Linked DNA regions of Homo sapiens: region 2 is linked to region 1. Evidence: fine-mapped expression QTL. Tissue or cell type: whole blood. Region 1 holds a variant in brackets; the other region holds the start of a gene. All regions are shown on one strand. Distances are between the middles of the regions. Region 1 overlaps NFATC2 (nuclear factor of activated T cells 2). Region 2 holds the start of NFATC2 (nuclear factor of activated T cells 2).

Region 1 (8,000 bases):
CACGCCAGCCTCTGTTACCATATATTTCTATTCTTAATTCTATAGTGAACATGTAGATTGTACTCTGATTTTTTAAGTTTACATTTTGCCATGAGCATTTCCTTTTGTTTTTTTCTTAATCAGTAGCTTTTTTGTGTGTCTGTGGCTTTTGATTTAACCTCAGATTTTTTTTTCAAAATAAGTAGAGAAGTGTGCCTATTTTTCCCCAAAATAATTGGAGTTGAAATATTCTTAATTGTATAATCTGGTTAACCAGGAACAACTGACTGGTGCCCACTAACAAGTCAATTAACTAGAACCTTTAATACATTTAAATTAATATAACTTTTTTTGGTATTTGCCTTAAAGTAGAAGTATCCTATTAATATGATAAAACTTGGTTCTTAATCTATAGTGTGCATCAGAACCTCTAGGGTGGTTCTTAAAAATTCAGATTGTTGGGCATTCTGAAACTAAATTAGAAACTATATAACATGAGTAAAGCCCAGGTAAACAAACAAACAAATGAAAAACAGCAAACTCCCCAAATCTCCACAGGTGCTTTGGGTGTGTACCTCTGATTAAGGACATCTATGATAATATTAAGAACTTGTAAGTCCTGACAATTGCTTTTTTTTTTTTTTAAATCAGACACCATAGCCATCTTGGAATCTGTTTCTATTCATTGAGTTTTGGTTCTTGACCATGAGTCCCATTTTCCTGTTGTGTTGCCTGTCTAGTAGTTGTCGACTGCATTCTGACATCGTGATGATATATACTGGATGTGGTAGACATTCTGAACTTTCTTTCGTGCTTCATCAGGTGGATCTGTGGAAAGCACAAGGTGTATCTAACTTGATGGGGCTTAGATTTTAAACTGTCTTCTCTGTATTTTATTTGAGGATTGGTTTTAGGCCCCATTAGGGCAGGCCTGGAGTAGCCCTTCCTCTGAGGCATGTGCCTGTTCTGAAGGCATGGCCATTTTGGATGCTTGGTGGGGAGGTCTCTTTAATCTGGTGGGCTGGAATTCCCATATGCCAGCTCCGCTGCACTCTTAGTCTCTCTGTTCTCTCCACCCCATAGCAGCCCCTCTCTGGTAAACCTCGCACCATCTCTCCCTGTGCTTACACAGCCCAGCCCTTGGCCAAAGAGTTGAGGGTTTCCCCCAGCAGCTTCCTCCTCTCTGATGCCACCGATTCCAGCAGTTTCCACAGCCTGGCACTCTGAGCGGTGCCAGGAATCCAGGATTATTTCAGGAATCCTCAGCACAGCGGGACCACTGTGCTCTGCTCAGATGCTACTTCCTGCACGTGGCAGGGGAGCTGTCCCCAGGCAGAGAGCTGAAATGAAGGTGGGCTCACCTGTGCACTTCCTCTCCCTTGGGGACCGCAGTCTTCTGATTCCTGCCGTCCAATCCTGAGAGCAATTGCCTTATGTAATATATATATGTATTTTTTGACAGAGTCTATCACTCTGTCACACAGGCTGGAGTGCAGTGGTGTAATCTTGGCTCACTGCAACCTCTGCCTCCTGGGTTCAGGTGATTCCTCTGCCTCAGCCTCCTGAGTAGCTGGGATTACAGGTGTGCGCCACCATGCCTGGTTAATTTTTGTATTTTTAGTAGAGACAGGGTTTCACTATATTGGTCTGGCTGGTCTTGAACTCTTGATTTCAAGTGATCCACCCACCTCGGCCTCCCAAAGTGCTGGGATTATAGGCGTGAGCCACCGTGCCTGGCCAAGTGCTCTGTTTTATGTGTCCACAGCTCCATGCACCTTTCCTTCATGCTACCTGCCACTACTTGTAATTCTAACATTTGCATAATTATTTTGTCAATGTCTCTCTCTCTTAGACCATGAGCTTTGTTTAAAAGAGACCACAACTTCCTTCTTATTCTTCATTGTATATCACCATCAAGCACAGTTTGCTGCCACAAACATAGCAGGCACTCAACAAATACTTGGAGAATGAATCTGCTCATTAAATGCATTGGCCAAACAATTTTAAGTCTTAAGGAGAGAGAATCTGTATCCATTTCTGGCTTTGTGGCATCTTCATTCACTGATTATTCAAAAGATGTTTATTGAGCACCTACTATGTACCAGGCATGGTGCTTGATTCTGGGTTATGATATGAACAAAACAGCTGGAAATTCTCACCATCATGAGCTTACATTTTGGCAAGATGATAGTAATAATAAACATTTAGAAAACATTTGCTGCCTGTGAGATCCTGTTCCAAGTGCTGCATATGTGTTAACTTATTTAATCCTCAAAAGAGCCTTATGATGCAGGTAACAGGTCAAGTAGCTGTCAAGGACTTGTTCAAGGTTATGGCTATTAAATGGTGGAGCTGGGATTTGGATACCGCAAGCTCTATTTGCAGCACAGTAGATCTGATCATCCACGTCTCTTTGCAGACCAGCTCTTCCTGCCTTCTCACTTGTGCAGAAAAAGCCTGAAGGGGAAATGCCCACGCCTCCTGCGGGCCACTCCATTCCCCCTAGTTTTGCATGCTGTTCCAGTATGAGCCTTGTCATCACCTCATGGGAGCTAAATCCTGATTCTCAGGGAGATGCTGATTGGCCCTGTCTTGGGAGGGTGCCGCCCATTGGTCCAGTAGGCTGTGGCCTGGAGGTTGGGCTGCATGAGGAGTGAGGCTCAGCTCACCCATTCATCAGGGGCTGGGGCCCTGGAAATTTCCAGAGAAGGGAATGGGCTGAGTGTACAGTCCAGGAGACACCTGCTAGGCTGTCCCTGAAGTTTGTGCTTCTCCCTCTGATAGCTCCCAAGGACTCTTGCCTCTTCATGCATGTGACTTTGTTTGTTTGTTTATTTGTTTGCTTATTTTAGAGATAGGATCTTGCTTTGTCACCCAGGCTGGAGTGCAGTGGCATGATCACTGCTCACTGCTGCCTTGAATTTCTGAGCTCAAGTGATCCTCCCACCTCAGCCTCCTGAGTAGTTGGGACTATAGGCGTGTTACCACCATGCCCAGCTAATTTTTTCCTTTTTTGTAGAGACATGGTCTCCCTGCGTTGCTTAGGCTGGTCTTGAACTCCTGGGCTCAAGTGATCCTACCACCTCATCCTCCCAAAGTGTTAGGATTACAGTGTGAGCCACCACAAGTGGCCCAAGTGCCTGTAACTTTGAAGATCCAATATATGATTTAAAAACTTGCAGACAAGTCTCTTTAAAAGACAAAAAGTGGAGTCTTTTTAAAAAGTCATTTGAATAGATTATGTTTTTTCAAAATAAGTCATGCTAATTACTGATTTTTAGCATGGGAAGTCAGTTTAAAAAAAAAAACTTCTTGGAAAAATTGAGAAAAGAGTGGACTTTAAGAGGATTGCTGCTCTTACCCTTCAAGGGAGTGTGAAAACTCCTTCTGGAATCTGCAGCACTGCCCCTTTCATATCCAGAAGAGCAGTGTAGCCTGCTTTGTACCTTGCCTGAATGCTTCCGCCGGCTTCTCTGTTGATTTCTGTCTCACTCTTTATCTCTGTATCTGTTTCTATTTCTGAACCACAGCCTCTTCTCCCCTCTCAGTTACTCAGTCT[C/T]CACCCTTCTCTCTTTTATTTGCCTCACTATAGAACTTCATTCTTTTTTCATGCCTAGTGGTTTTAAGCTCCTCTTTATATAAAAAGAAAATGAATATAAGACCATTTCATTTTTTATCCTTAAGTGTACAATTAAAAATCTTAAACATATGCCATGCTCAGCTGTTCTCTTCATTGCTTTTTTTGAATGGTACTTGGTCTTGGGAGAAAGTTTGTTCCCAAACCTTAAGTGCTTGTCAGATCTCATGACTCATTTGTATGGGGAATGTCTCACTGGGGACCTGCCATGTGCCAGGCACTGTGCTGGTTGCAGGTGATACAACGTTGGTGAGATCAGCACAGCTCATGCCCTGAGGGAGCTCAGGGGCTGCGGGAAAGTGGACTAGGATGGTTTGAGTTGGTCAGGGAGGCCTGAGAGGCCAGATGGCGGCCACTTGGAGGGGATCTGTGGGCTGATGCCTGGACTCACGGTGGGACGTGATGGCTGATTAGAAGCTTGTCCATTGGATTCACCGCTTGGGAGGAACTGCTTCTACAGAACAAACCATGACAAGAGATGGTACTTGGAAGACCTACTTTAGAAAGAGTGTCTCGTTGAGGAGGTGACTTGTCAGCTGGGACCTGGAACAGGTCATAGAACCAGCAAAGAGACAAATGATGTCCTCCTCCTCCTCCGTGCTCTCTGTCTCTCTTAGTCGGGGGAGAGTGTTCTACACACAGAGCACAGCACATGCAAAGGCCCTGAGGCAGGGAAGGACTGTGTGTGGCTGAAGAGCTGAAGGAGGGCCAGTGTCATTCAAGTTTAGCTTGCAGGGTGATGGTTGGCAGGCCCAAACTGTGCAGGGCTTAAAAGCCAAGGTGAGGAGATGAAATTTTGCTTATTCCAGGGCAAGGGGAAGACATGATACGTTTTGAGTAGAGGAGGAACTTGATTCTGATTTAACATTTTATAGATCACTCAGGTTTCTCCCTGGGGACTAGATTAGAAGAAGTTACGGAAGAAGCAGGGAGATGAGATTGTTAGCCTGTGGCAGTACCAGGGGAAAGATCAAGGTGGTAAGGACTAGAAGGTGGCAGTGGGAGCGGAAGCTATGGACTCTATAATGTGATCTTCAGGACTTAGGTATGGGAGGTAAAGGAGCAACTGAGTGGATGGTTCGGTTGGATGGATGGCGGAGAAGGACTTGGGAAAGAAAGTGTTTTCTTGGGGGAAGATTGCAAGTTCTCTTTGGGGCATAGAAGGTACAAAGGGCTTCCAAGGCACACGAGCAAAGATGTCAAGTAAACAGTTGGATATATGAGCTTGGAGCTCAGAAGCAAAGTCCTCAACTTGCTCTCAGGCCTGTGGGATGCCTCGGGGCCACACGCTGCATCACCAGAGGCCCCAGCAAGCACCCACTTGCAAGGACTGACTGTCCACACCCTCAGTAACAATGCGCCTCTCTCTAGAAGCAGTGGACTAAGGAAGAAGCAAAGAAGAGACTGTATAAACAAGATCACAAACAGACAAGCCCAGGAGGGCCAGGCAATGAAAGGAAATGACTGAACTGACCAAATGTCAGGGAGCAACAGGGGGTGGTGGGGAGTAGGGCAGAGCGGCATGTGAGTCTTGCCTCAGGAGGCAGTTGCTGTTCAGTCCCTATAGGCTGTGACATGTGGGAATGTGGGTGGAATGTTGCCAGGTTTTATAGGTTTTGTTTTTTCTTCTTTCCCAAGAGCTAGGAGTTGGAATTTTTATGTGAAATTTCTGATTTTTCAGTTTTGGCCATAAATCAAACTTTGGGTTGAATTTGGCTCATGGCAAATATGCTTCAGTTCACATCATCTGGAATAAATAAGAATGGTGCTACTTCAAGGTTTATCAAATAGGAAGGGAGATAAGAGAGAGGTTATATTTATATGATTTCTAAGAATTGTCTAGTTACAGAACGAACCCTGTTAACAGCCGGATCGAGGTAGTTTCTCTTATAAAACCCTAAATCTCAGGTGAGTGTGGTGGCTCACACCTGTAATCCCAGCTACTTGGGAGGCTGAGGCAAGAGGATTGCTTGAGCTCAGGAGTTCAGGGCGGCAGTCCGCTGTGATCGTGCCACTGCACTCCAGCCTGGGTGACAGAGTGAGACCATGTCTCTAAAAAAACAAACAAATAAATAAAAAAGTTCTAAATCTTATTGAAGTAGAACAAGTCTAGGGTTCTTTCAGAGGAACCAATGAATCTTAATGCACAAGCCTGACTTTGGTCTGCAGGTATCAGATGAAAAGGGGAACCACTTGATTCATCTCAAAAGAGCCACACGCTTTTGGTGGAGCCCTGCCATCATTCCTCGCCCTGTTTCAGGACAGGATGCAGTGGTCCTCCGGTGGACAAAACATCCATTCAGAGCGGTTTTGCAAGGTTGGGCTTTAAGTGTTTCCATAGTTCTTCAGCTTATGAGGTCTAATAATATCCCAGTTGAGAGTGGCCTGTATAACGCCATTGTCATTTAATCCTTTCCTGGCGGCTTCCAAACCCTTTAACCATATTCTGCACAGAAATTCCCTGGAGGGGATACTTTGGTATATTCCTTATCCATCCTTGTGCTGGGGCTTTCAAAAAATGTTATTCTTACAACTCTCTGGGATGCATGTTTAATGGAAAGAATAATCAGAACGCCATCCTTTTAGGGAGTGATCAAAATATGAGAACGTGGAAGCGTCGCACTCACCTCCAAAGAGTCCTCTTGGTTCTTTCAAGCAGATGTTCAGACATGTGGAAAAAACATGGGTAGCTCTGTTACGAGGAATTCCTTGCAGATGCGGAAACCCGATGGCCATTTCATTCCCGGTAACAGTAATGAGCTTTGCAGGGAGGTGAGTGAGGGCCTGAGGCCCACCTGTCCAGGCTACTGCCTCCTGGGCTGGAGGAGCTGGTAAAGTCTCCAGTCTTTCAAAACCTCATAAAATGGATTATGGGACGTGGATGCTCATTCTGTTGGATTTCAGCTTTTATGCTAACTGCAACTTACTTGAAATGATATCTAAGGAAGGGAAGAAGCAAGCCAGATGGGATTTTTTCCTTTCCAGGTGAAAGCTGCACTCGTGACAGTAAGCAGTGCTCCTTTAGCAGTTGGCTGGGTGTGTTAGCTTCTATTTGTCTAATAAAATTTTGTGTTTGGGGACGTGAGACAGGAAGTAGTTCTTGCTGATGCTAATTTGTCTTGATCAGGGCTGCTGTGTTGGCATCTACAGAAGGTTCCATTGGACCTCCTGGGGAGGGGAAGGGAAAGAGGTGGTGGCCGGGTCACTCAGGCTTCCAAAAAATTGGAGGAGGAGAATGTTCTGAGATCACTGGGGTTCATTTGCTCATTTATTAAAAATACTTACCAAGCACCTACTGTGTGCTTGGCACTGGGAATATGGCAGTGAACCACAGGCAAAAATCCCTGGCCCTGTGGAGCTGATGTGCTGGCTAGGGGGAGATAGCAATATAGCTTATAAATAGGAAAATTTTAAATAGTATGTTAAATAGGAAAATGAAATAGTATGTTGGGAGGTGATAAGTCCTATGGGGAAAACTATCAGGCCAAGGAGAATTGGGAGTGGTTTGATGGATCTCCCTGGGAAAGCCACATTTGGGCAAAGAAGGAGGTGCCCACGTGGAAGCTGCAGGGACCTCTCCAGGCTGAGGAGAGAGCAGGGCTGAGTTGGGTGACATCTTGAACAGAGAGGAGGCCTGTGTGGGAAGGGCAGGGGAAGGGGAAGGATAGGGGGGCGGATCGTGGGCCTCGCACATGTTTAGTTAGAGGACTTGGACTCTGAGCGAGGCGGGAGCTGGGAGGGCCTGGCTTGACGTAGGTGTCAGCAGGATCCCTCTGCTGGGGTGTGGACAGGGAGAAGCTGCTGCAGAGGCCCAGGCCAGAGGGGATGGTGGCTGGACCAGGGTGGGGGCATGGGGGAGCAGGAGAAGGGGTTAGAGTCAGAGCATGTTTTGAAAGTCAGGCTAACTGGATTTTTTTGAGACTGGCTGCAAGAGGGGTGGCATCTGTCTGTCTGGGGCTGTAGCCTTGGGAAAGGCCAGAGTCTCTAGGGACCCTGTTCATCCCTGCCGAGACTCCTGCTATTTTTAGAGGGAAAGCATCTTTTAGAGGTGACTTGATGTAGCCTTTTCACTTCAAGATGGAGGCGGGGATGGGGTGGGGAGTAGCAGAGCGGGGTGTGTGATGTGGGGGTTCTGAGGCCGACTTTTGAGGAGCCATCCTCACCACCTCCTCCTTGTCTATACCAGTCTTTTGATGAGACTGGTGATTTCATTAAAATTTGAAAAAGACTACAGTCCAAACCAGGTACACCCGTGGGCCAGTTGTGGCACTGCTCTCTGCCCCGCCGCACGTGTCCCCGGCTGAGGGATGCCCGCAGTGGTCGAGGATGGACTTGTGAAACGATTGAGACCTGCACCCTGGCCTCCGAGGTGAGAGGTGGAGAG
Region 2 (8,000 bases), 30 kb before region 1:
TCCACTCATCCGTGCAACACATTCACTCTTTCATCCATCCATTCATCCATCTATCCTCCATCAATCCATCCATGTATCTTTCATTCATCCATTTATCCATTTATCCTCCATCCATCCGTCCATCCACCCTCCATCCACTCCTCCATCCATCATCCATCCATTCTTCCATCCATCCCCTATCCATCCATCCACCCATCTATTCATCCATCCACCCATCTTCCATCCATGCATCCATCTTCCATTCACCCATCCATCAATCCATCCCCTATCCATCCATCCACCCATCTATTCATCCATCCATCCATCTTCCATCCATGCATCCATCTTCCATTCACCCATCCATCAATCCATCTACTTATCCATCCTCCATTTATCCACACATCCATTGCACATAAAGCTGCGAATGAGGTGGTCATAGCCCCTGCCTTAGTGGATCTCAGGCTAGTTAGTGGAGATAAAATTCTCTGATTGGCGCAGTCTGGGTCATTCATCCACTTCGTTGCTTGGGGAAGGTGGGGCAGCTGGGTTGATAGCTCTACCAAGATTATGTTTAGAGTAGTTTCCCCAAGGAACACACTGGGGTGCTGTTATGAGAAGAAGGGAGGAATTATTCTGGGTAGGCACAATCAACAAATGTCCACTAGATTTAGTGGCACTTAATAATTATGGGATGGAGGGACGAGAAAGGATGTGGGGAGGCATTCCTAGCTTTTCTCCTTTTCTAAATCACAGGGGAAGCCTGGTTTTCTTGTTTATTGGCCAAAATTTCATCATCTGGACCTTGGGTCCCTGTCATAAGGACCCAGAAGAATCCATCTCTTTCTAGATACCTGTCTATAAGTATCCTAGCTGGGGTCTTCACTCTTCCTTCCTCCACCTAAATGCATCAGCTGCCCCCAAGATGCTTGTTGGATACACATGGCACAGAAGTGCTTATAGTTAGGAAACAAAGGCTGGAATTTCTTTATGCTCTGACAACCAGGAGGTGCTGCCCAAGACTCTGAAATGATTCCTGAGCCAGCCCCCAGGCCCCTGCAGTAGAGTTTGAGTCTAAACCAAAGTGGTTCTCATCTCTGGCCACACATTGGAAGCATCTGGTGAGCTTTTACAAAATACTGATGCCTAAGTCCCAACCCCAAACATTCTGATCAAATCGATGTCTGGTGGTGCTCAGGTCGTTGAATACAAATTTTAACAGCTCTCCAGGTGATTCTAATGTGTAGTCTGGGTTAAGAACCACTGGTCTGAGTGCAATTTTGAAAACCCCGTTCATAACTGTGCTACTTTGCTTTCAGGGCATAAGCATGATGAAGGGAGAGGCTGTGGCTTGTTGATGGTTGCATCCCCAACATCTTGTGGCAGTGCCAGGCAGGTGCTCAATAAATATTTGTGGAATGATGGATGGCTTGGCACAAATCCCCTTAATGGAGCTGAGATGGCTCCCCTGAAGAATGCGTGTCCTCAATTCCTCCTGGCACATGGGGAAGGATTCGAATCACTTGAGGTCAAGCTGTGGTTCTCACGAGGATCTTAAGACCTCTCCCGTCTAATCTTCTCATCCTCAACACTGGCTGCACCTTAGATTCATCTGAAGTTTAAAAAAATTTTCAGGCCGGGCGTGGTGGCTCACACCTGTAATCCCAGCACTTGGGGAGGCCGAGGCGGGTGGATCACGAGGTCAGGAGATCAAGACCTTCCTGGCTAACACAGTGAAACCCCATCTCTACTAAAAATACAAAAAAGTAGCCAGGCATGGTGGCTGGCGCCTGTAGTCCCAGCTACTCGGGAGGCTGAGGCAGGAGAATGGCGTGAACCCAGAAGGCAGAGCTTGCAATGAGCCAAGATCGCGCCACTGCACTCCAGCCTGGGCGACAGAGCGAGACTCCGTCTCCAAAAAAAAAAAAAAAAAAAAAAAAAAAAATTAGGAATTCTGCTTCAGTGGGTTTGGATTGCAGCCCAGCACGGGAGTTTAAAAAGGTGTCCCAGGTGATTCTAATATGTGGGAAGGGTTGAAGACCACTGTTTTGATCTTTTCTACCTCTGTGAGTCTGTTTCCAACTTCAGCTAAGTTGGTGGAGCCCCCTGGCAGAGTTTTATTGGAGGGTGTTCTTTAGTTACTGGGTCCTTATGCAGTGTTTGCCAAATGTACCTGTTCATTAATGCTCACGTTGGGTGCTTAATTAAAAATACACATTCACGAGTCTGTATTCAGACTTATGGAATCAGAAGCTCCAGGGAGGGGCCTGGGAATCATGCTTTAAACAAGCAGCCAGGCGTGTTTGTCACTTGCCAACCGCCCCATCAGAACTGTACTCCTCGTTCTCCCTCCAGCACACCCAGCCCCTTCGAGCTCTGGCTCTGTGTTTTGGTTCTCACTGCCAGAACACACTTCCCCAAGATCGCCTCATCAATCAGGTTTCTTCAAATGTCACCTCCTCAGAGAGGTCCTCCTTGACCACCCAAGGGACTAAAGCCACCCCAACCTTTATCCCATACCCTGGTGAGTTCTCTCCTGGCCCCATAAGCAGATGCTTTTTGTCCTGTTTCTCTCCTTCAGGCCTCTCCCACTACCAGAGCCTGAGCTTCCGAGGGCAACAGTGTCTGGCTCCGGCTGGGTGCCCAGCACCTGGCACGTGGTAGGTGGCCAGGAGGCATAGCTGTAACGGGGGGGACTAGTGCTGTCAGTCCGATTCCTTCCTAGGCGCTGGGGAGTTGAGTTCAGGGCCATGCAGGTGTCTGAAGTACTGTGAAAATCATGCCGCCCCCGTGGGCACACGGAGACGCCTGGAGACACGGGTCTGCAATAGAAGGGGGTGGATACCCCCTTCCACCCCATGGAGAAGAAAAGCAGGAAAAAGTGTGGGGCCAGTGGGTCCCTTAGGGCAAAAGTCCTAGTGGCGGCAGCTTTCTTGTCTAGACCCTGGTTCGCGCAGCGCGTGTCGCACTCACCCGTGGAGGGTGGGAGACAGCGGCCGCCCCAGCGCCCAGCGGTGGCCCGGGACAGTGTGGTCAGGTCCGCGGACAGCCTCCTTCCTCCCGGCACCGGCCAGCCCAGGCCGCGCGCCCCTCCCCTCCGGTCCCCTGGTGGCGGCCCCGCCCCCGCCGGCCTGGCCGCCCTGTCCCCGCCTCCACGCCCCCCCCCCCCCCGCCTCCCCGGGCTGCAACAGGTGCCTCCGGAGCAGGAAGCTCGCGCCGCCGTCGCCGCCGCCGCTCAGCTTCCCCGGGCGCGTCCAGGACCCGCTGCGCCAGGCGCGCCGTCCCCGGACCCGGCGTGCGTCCCTACGAGGAAAGGGACCCCGCCGCTCGAGCCGCCTCCGCCAGCCCCACTGCGAGGGGTCCCAGAGCCAGCCGCGCCCGCCCTCGCCCCCGGCCCCGCAGCCTTCCCGCCCTGCGCGCCATGAACGCCCCCGAGCGGCAGCCCCAACCCGACGGCGGGGACGCCCCAGGCCACGAGCCTGGGGGCAGCCCCCAAGACGAGCTTGACTTCTCCATCCTCTTCGACTATGAGTATTTGAATCCGAACGAAGGTCGGTGGAGGCTACCCCTGGCCTGGCCCCTGAGCCCGCCAGGGGCTCAGGCCTGGGGACTGGGCACAGGAGTCCTCTTGGCTCCAGCCGTCCCCCTTCCTAAGGGGCCTGGAGGGAGGGTGCCCCTACCCAGGTGCCAGGGAGGGGAGGCGTCAGTGGCCCCTGCCACCCTTAGGGGGCGGTCGGCTCCCTCTTGCCCCTTAGGGGCACCAGTTTCTGGTTGCTCATGACTGCTCCCTGAGGGTCACTCTCAGCAAAACAAAAGGTGGCAGGCAGGTCCCAAGGCTGGGGGGCGGGTGCTGTCTGCTGGCCTCTTGCCTGGGACTGGGCTGTCAAAGGGCAAGGGACATGATTTCTGTGCCTTTGGAGGGAGGAGGTGAGGAAGCGAAGAATGGAGTTAGCAGGGAGGAGTTGCCAAAAAAAGAAGGAAGGGGGGTGCAGCTGAACCCAGTTATCAAGGGTAGGAGGCCGCTCCTTCCCTCCAGGCACTGAAGTGAGGCCACGCAGCTCCCATCACCTCCTGTGAGCAGTGGTTGACGGGGACTTTGTGTTGAAACTGAGGAAGAGGTTGTCTGTCTGATGCTGGAGAGGGTTAAAACCTTTGGTATTATAAGGCCGGCCCATTTCCTCCCTGGGTTCTGCTGCTGAACCCATCACTTACCACTCACAAGAGGATTGGTCTGAGCTATATTAAGTGATCTTCTACGCTTAGTCCTAATGGATGTGGTGGGATGGGGTAGGGTGAGGGGCAGCTGCAGCATGGATTCAGAAGGACACAGGCTCTTTCTGCCTGAACTTTGTCACTCTGTGCCTCCAACTGCCCTCAGTTGCTGGGGGCTGGGGACTTCCCCGGGCTGGGCCCAATGCTTATCTGTCACTTCACGTGTTTAACAGGAGCATTCGTTAGAGGGAGGAGGAGGAGGAGGGGGAAGCGGCCACACGCCCAACCTCACTGTGTATTTCTGGTTAGCAGGTTGTCTTGGAAAAAACAAAAAACCCAACCAGGCTTCCTGATTTTGACAGCCCAGCCCAGCCCAGCCAATGCTTGTTGAAGGCTCAGTGGCAGGCCTGTTAGTAGCTTCCAGACGCACTCTGGGCTTGCCTCCATCTAGTGTGTAGGAAGGGCTTGTGCTGACTGGCTCGTGGAGGAAGCCTGTCAAGGAGGCTTGGTGGCCTGATGTTTCCCACAAACACTGTGTTAGGCAGATAATGAAGTTTTCGCTTCCATCGGTGTCCTCTCTGGCCACGTTAGGTGAGGGGTTTGCTTTAGCTTTGGGTATCCTCTTCCCTTGGATACCCAGAGATGGTCATTAGTAATAATTTTGTGTCTTGGCTGGAGATGGAAACAATTAGCCAACAGAAGAGACCAGTCTTCTAGAGTTGCAATCTGGAGGACATCTTTTGCTTTGAAAAGATACAATTAAGAATCTGCAAACGATCCGCACTAATATCCGTGGTCTTTCTGTTCATTAAGATTAAAGTCATGTTTTTCAGGGAACGAATACTCACACCCCTCCCAGATTGGTAATCAGCTTTTATTTTCCTTGTCGGGTGGGGTGGGGGGATTTCCGGGGAAATAGTTTCCAAGCCAAATCTGAAGGGAGGTACTTTTTATGGTTTTTCTTGGCAAGTGCTGCTTGGTGGCCACCAGATGGGTATCTAAATGACCACAATGAAAGCCCTGGAATCTGTTTTCTCAAAAAAAAAAAAACAAAAAAAAAACTTCAGTTTTTGGAACAGTTTCAGATTTACAGAAAAGTTGCAAAGATAGCACAGAGAGTTCCCATATACCCAATACCCTGTTTCCCCGTGTTATTAATGTTTTACATTAGTATGGTGCATTTATTGTAACCAACAAACCAATATTGACACATTATTAACTGAGGTTTATGCCTTATTCAGATTGGGAATGTTTTATGTGACCTTCACTGTTTTGAGGAGTGTTGGTTGTATTGTAGACTGTCCCTTCATTAGACTAGGGCTCTAGGTTTTCGGGAGGAAGCCCACAAAGATAAAGCTCCCTTCTCATCACATCGTATCAAGAGTATGTACTATCCAGCCAGGCGTGGTGGCTCACGCCTGTAATCCCAACACTTTGGGAGGCTGAGGCGGGCGGATCACCTGAGGTCAGGAGGTCAAGACCAGCCTGGCCAACATGGTGAAACCCCAACTCTACTAAAAATACACAAATTAGCCAGGCATGGTGGAAGGCACTGTAATTCCAGAAACTCAGGAGGATGACGCAGGAGAATTGCTTGAACCCAGTAGGCAGAAGTTGCAGTGAGGCAGGTGGCACCATTGCACTCCAGCCTGGGTGACAAGAGTGAGACTCTGTCTCAAAAAACAACAACAAAAAGTATACTATCCATGTCATTTATCATTAATGCTAACCTTGATTACCCAGTAGAGGTAGCTTTTCTCAGTTTCTTCAAACTCTTTGGAAGGCATTACTACATGAAGCCCACACTTAAGGAGTACAGAGTAATACTCCAGAATCTGGAAAGCACTTACTCTTTGCTGAGAAGTAGGCAGCACAGAAGAGTTAGCACCCAGAAAGAGAAGGGATGCTGTGGCCGGGAGTGGTGGCTCATGCCTGCAATCCCAACAATTTGGGAAGTCGAGGTGGGAAGATTGCTTGAGTCCAGGGCTTCAAGACCAGCTGGGGCAACATAGCAAGACCTCATCTCTAATAAAAATAAAAAAATAAAACAATTAGCCTAGCCTAGTTGCGCATGCCTGTAGACCCAGCTTCCCAGCTACTCGGAGGCTTAGGTAGGAGAATCTCTTAACCCCAGGAGTTCGAGGCTGCCCTGAGCCGTGATCGTGCCACTGCACTCCAGCCCATGGGACAGTGCGAAACCCTGTCTCAAACCAACAAACCAGACAAAAAAAGAGAAGGGACATGGTAAGCTTTAAGAGGCTAATGTGAACTGCCCCAGATGTGCATCTGGCTCTGGGTCACCCAGATGTTAATAGCAGTCACCTCTCTTTGCTTCTGTATGGTGGGACTCCTCAGGGGTGAACACTAGCCTTAATCTTTTTATTAGGTTTTGTCCCAGATGGCAACATATTGGTGACGCATGTAAAGTTCTATCCTTAACTCTGGGCACGAGCTTGGCAAAAACCAAGGAAGGAAAGGTACTGCTAATGGGGCAGACATTGTTGATAGAATTGGTGAAGGTAAATTAGGGAATTTTGGGGAGGTCGGATGCTCATTTTATGGAGTTTAGCATGTAGCAGACGTTCATTAGCCCATGTGATTCCACTCCAACCCTAGGAGGCAGGCACTATTATCACCCCTGTTTTATGGAGGAGGACGCTAAGGCACAGAGAGGTAAAGTAATTTTCCCAAAATGGGCAGTGTTGCTCCATACCATGTGTTCTGAACTATTGTGTTAGGGTCCTCATTCTCTCATTTGGTGAGAGACACATGCAAACCAGTTAGCAAGGTGTCTGGGACCATGGCAGGGCTGGAATTGAAAACCTTGTTTACCAACAAGGTGATCTTGAGCAAGTCATCTCATCTCTCTGGACATCTGTCTGCTTATCTGTAAAATGGCTGAAATAATACCACTTGCCTCATAGGACCGTTACCTGCCTTGAATAGGTTAACCCATTTAAATCAACACAGCATGTGATCTGTTACTAGTGGTTTAGTAAACCCTTGCTTTTGTTAATGGAGGTGTTCAATTAATATGAGCCATTGTTTATTTACTCATTCAGCTATTGAGCACCCTCTGTGTTAGATCCTAGGGTCACAACGGGGAATGAGACCCAGATCCTGTCCTCTCTGAGCTACTGCCTCTAATTGTGCCTCTGTTGTTTTCTCTTGTCTAATTGCATTAACTAATACCTCCAGTAGAGTGTTACATGATAGTGAAGACAGTGGGCATCCTTGCCTTGGAGGAGGACTCCAGTGTTGGCTTTAAAATTGAGGTGTATGAATTATGTAAAGGAAGTATTAGTTCTTTCTTTTTTCCCCCGAGAGTTTTTATTACAAATGGGAGTTGAATTATATCAAAGGCTTTTTTAGCATCTATGGAAAAATATGATCTTATTCTTCGTAGACCTATTAATGTGTTGGCATACATTATTAGATTTCTTTATATGAAGACATCCTTGGTATGGACTCCACTTGGTGTATTATTTTCTTAAGGTGGTTGTGGCATCAGATAATATTTAAGCATTTTTCAGTATTCATGAGTGATATTCATATTGGCCTATTTTTTGTGCTATCAGGTTTAGGTTTCTTTCCTTTTCTAAGCTCAGGAATAATTTCTGTCTCCCTGGGACTCCCTGGTCTCTAAAGCTGTGATAGAATTCCTCTGTGAAGCCGCCTGGACCTGGTGCTTCTTTGTGGAGTTGTTTCTTGATGGCTTTCTCTATACTGTGGGAATTGGTCTCTTTACACTTTCTACTTCTACTGGAGTCAATTTTTGTAAACTCTATCTTTCTGGGAAATTATCCATTTTA

Evidence for each region. PIP is the estimated chance that this variant, and not a neighbour inherited with it, causes the effect.
Region 2: NFATC2 starts here. The variant in region 1 is fine-mapped to the expression of NFATC2 in whole blood (TOPMed, PIP 0.97).

What each region holds. Positions count from the first base shown.
Region 1 is chr20:51,508,309-51,516,308 of GRCh38, reverse strand. The region is part of intron 3 of NFATC2 (nuclear factor of activated T cells 2); the gene reads left to right. Among named protein-coding and RNA genes, the nearest start is that of NFATC2, 30 kb to the left of the region's middle. The variant C/T (reference allele first, on the strand shown) is at 3,539.
Region 2 is chr20:51,537,897-51,545,896 of GRCh38, reverse strand. NFATC2 (nuclear factor of activated T cells 2) reads left to right here and starts at 3,178. Exons shown (of 11, transcript NM_012340.5): 1 at 3,178-3,527. The coding sequence starts at 3,398. RefSeq lists silencers at 3,164-3,323, 3,334-3,443 and an enhancer at 4,208-4,877.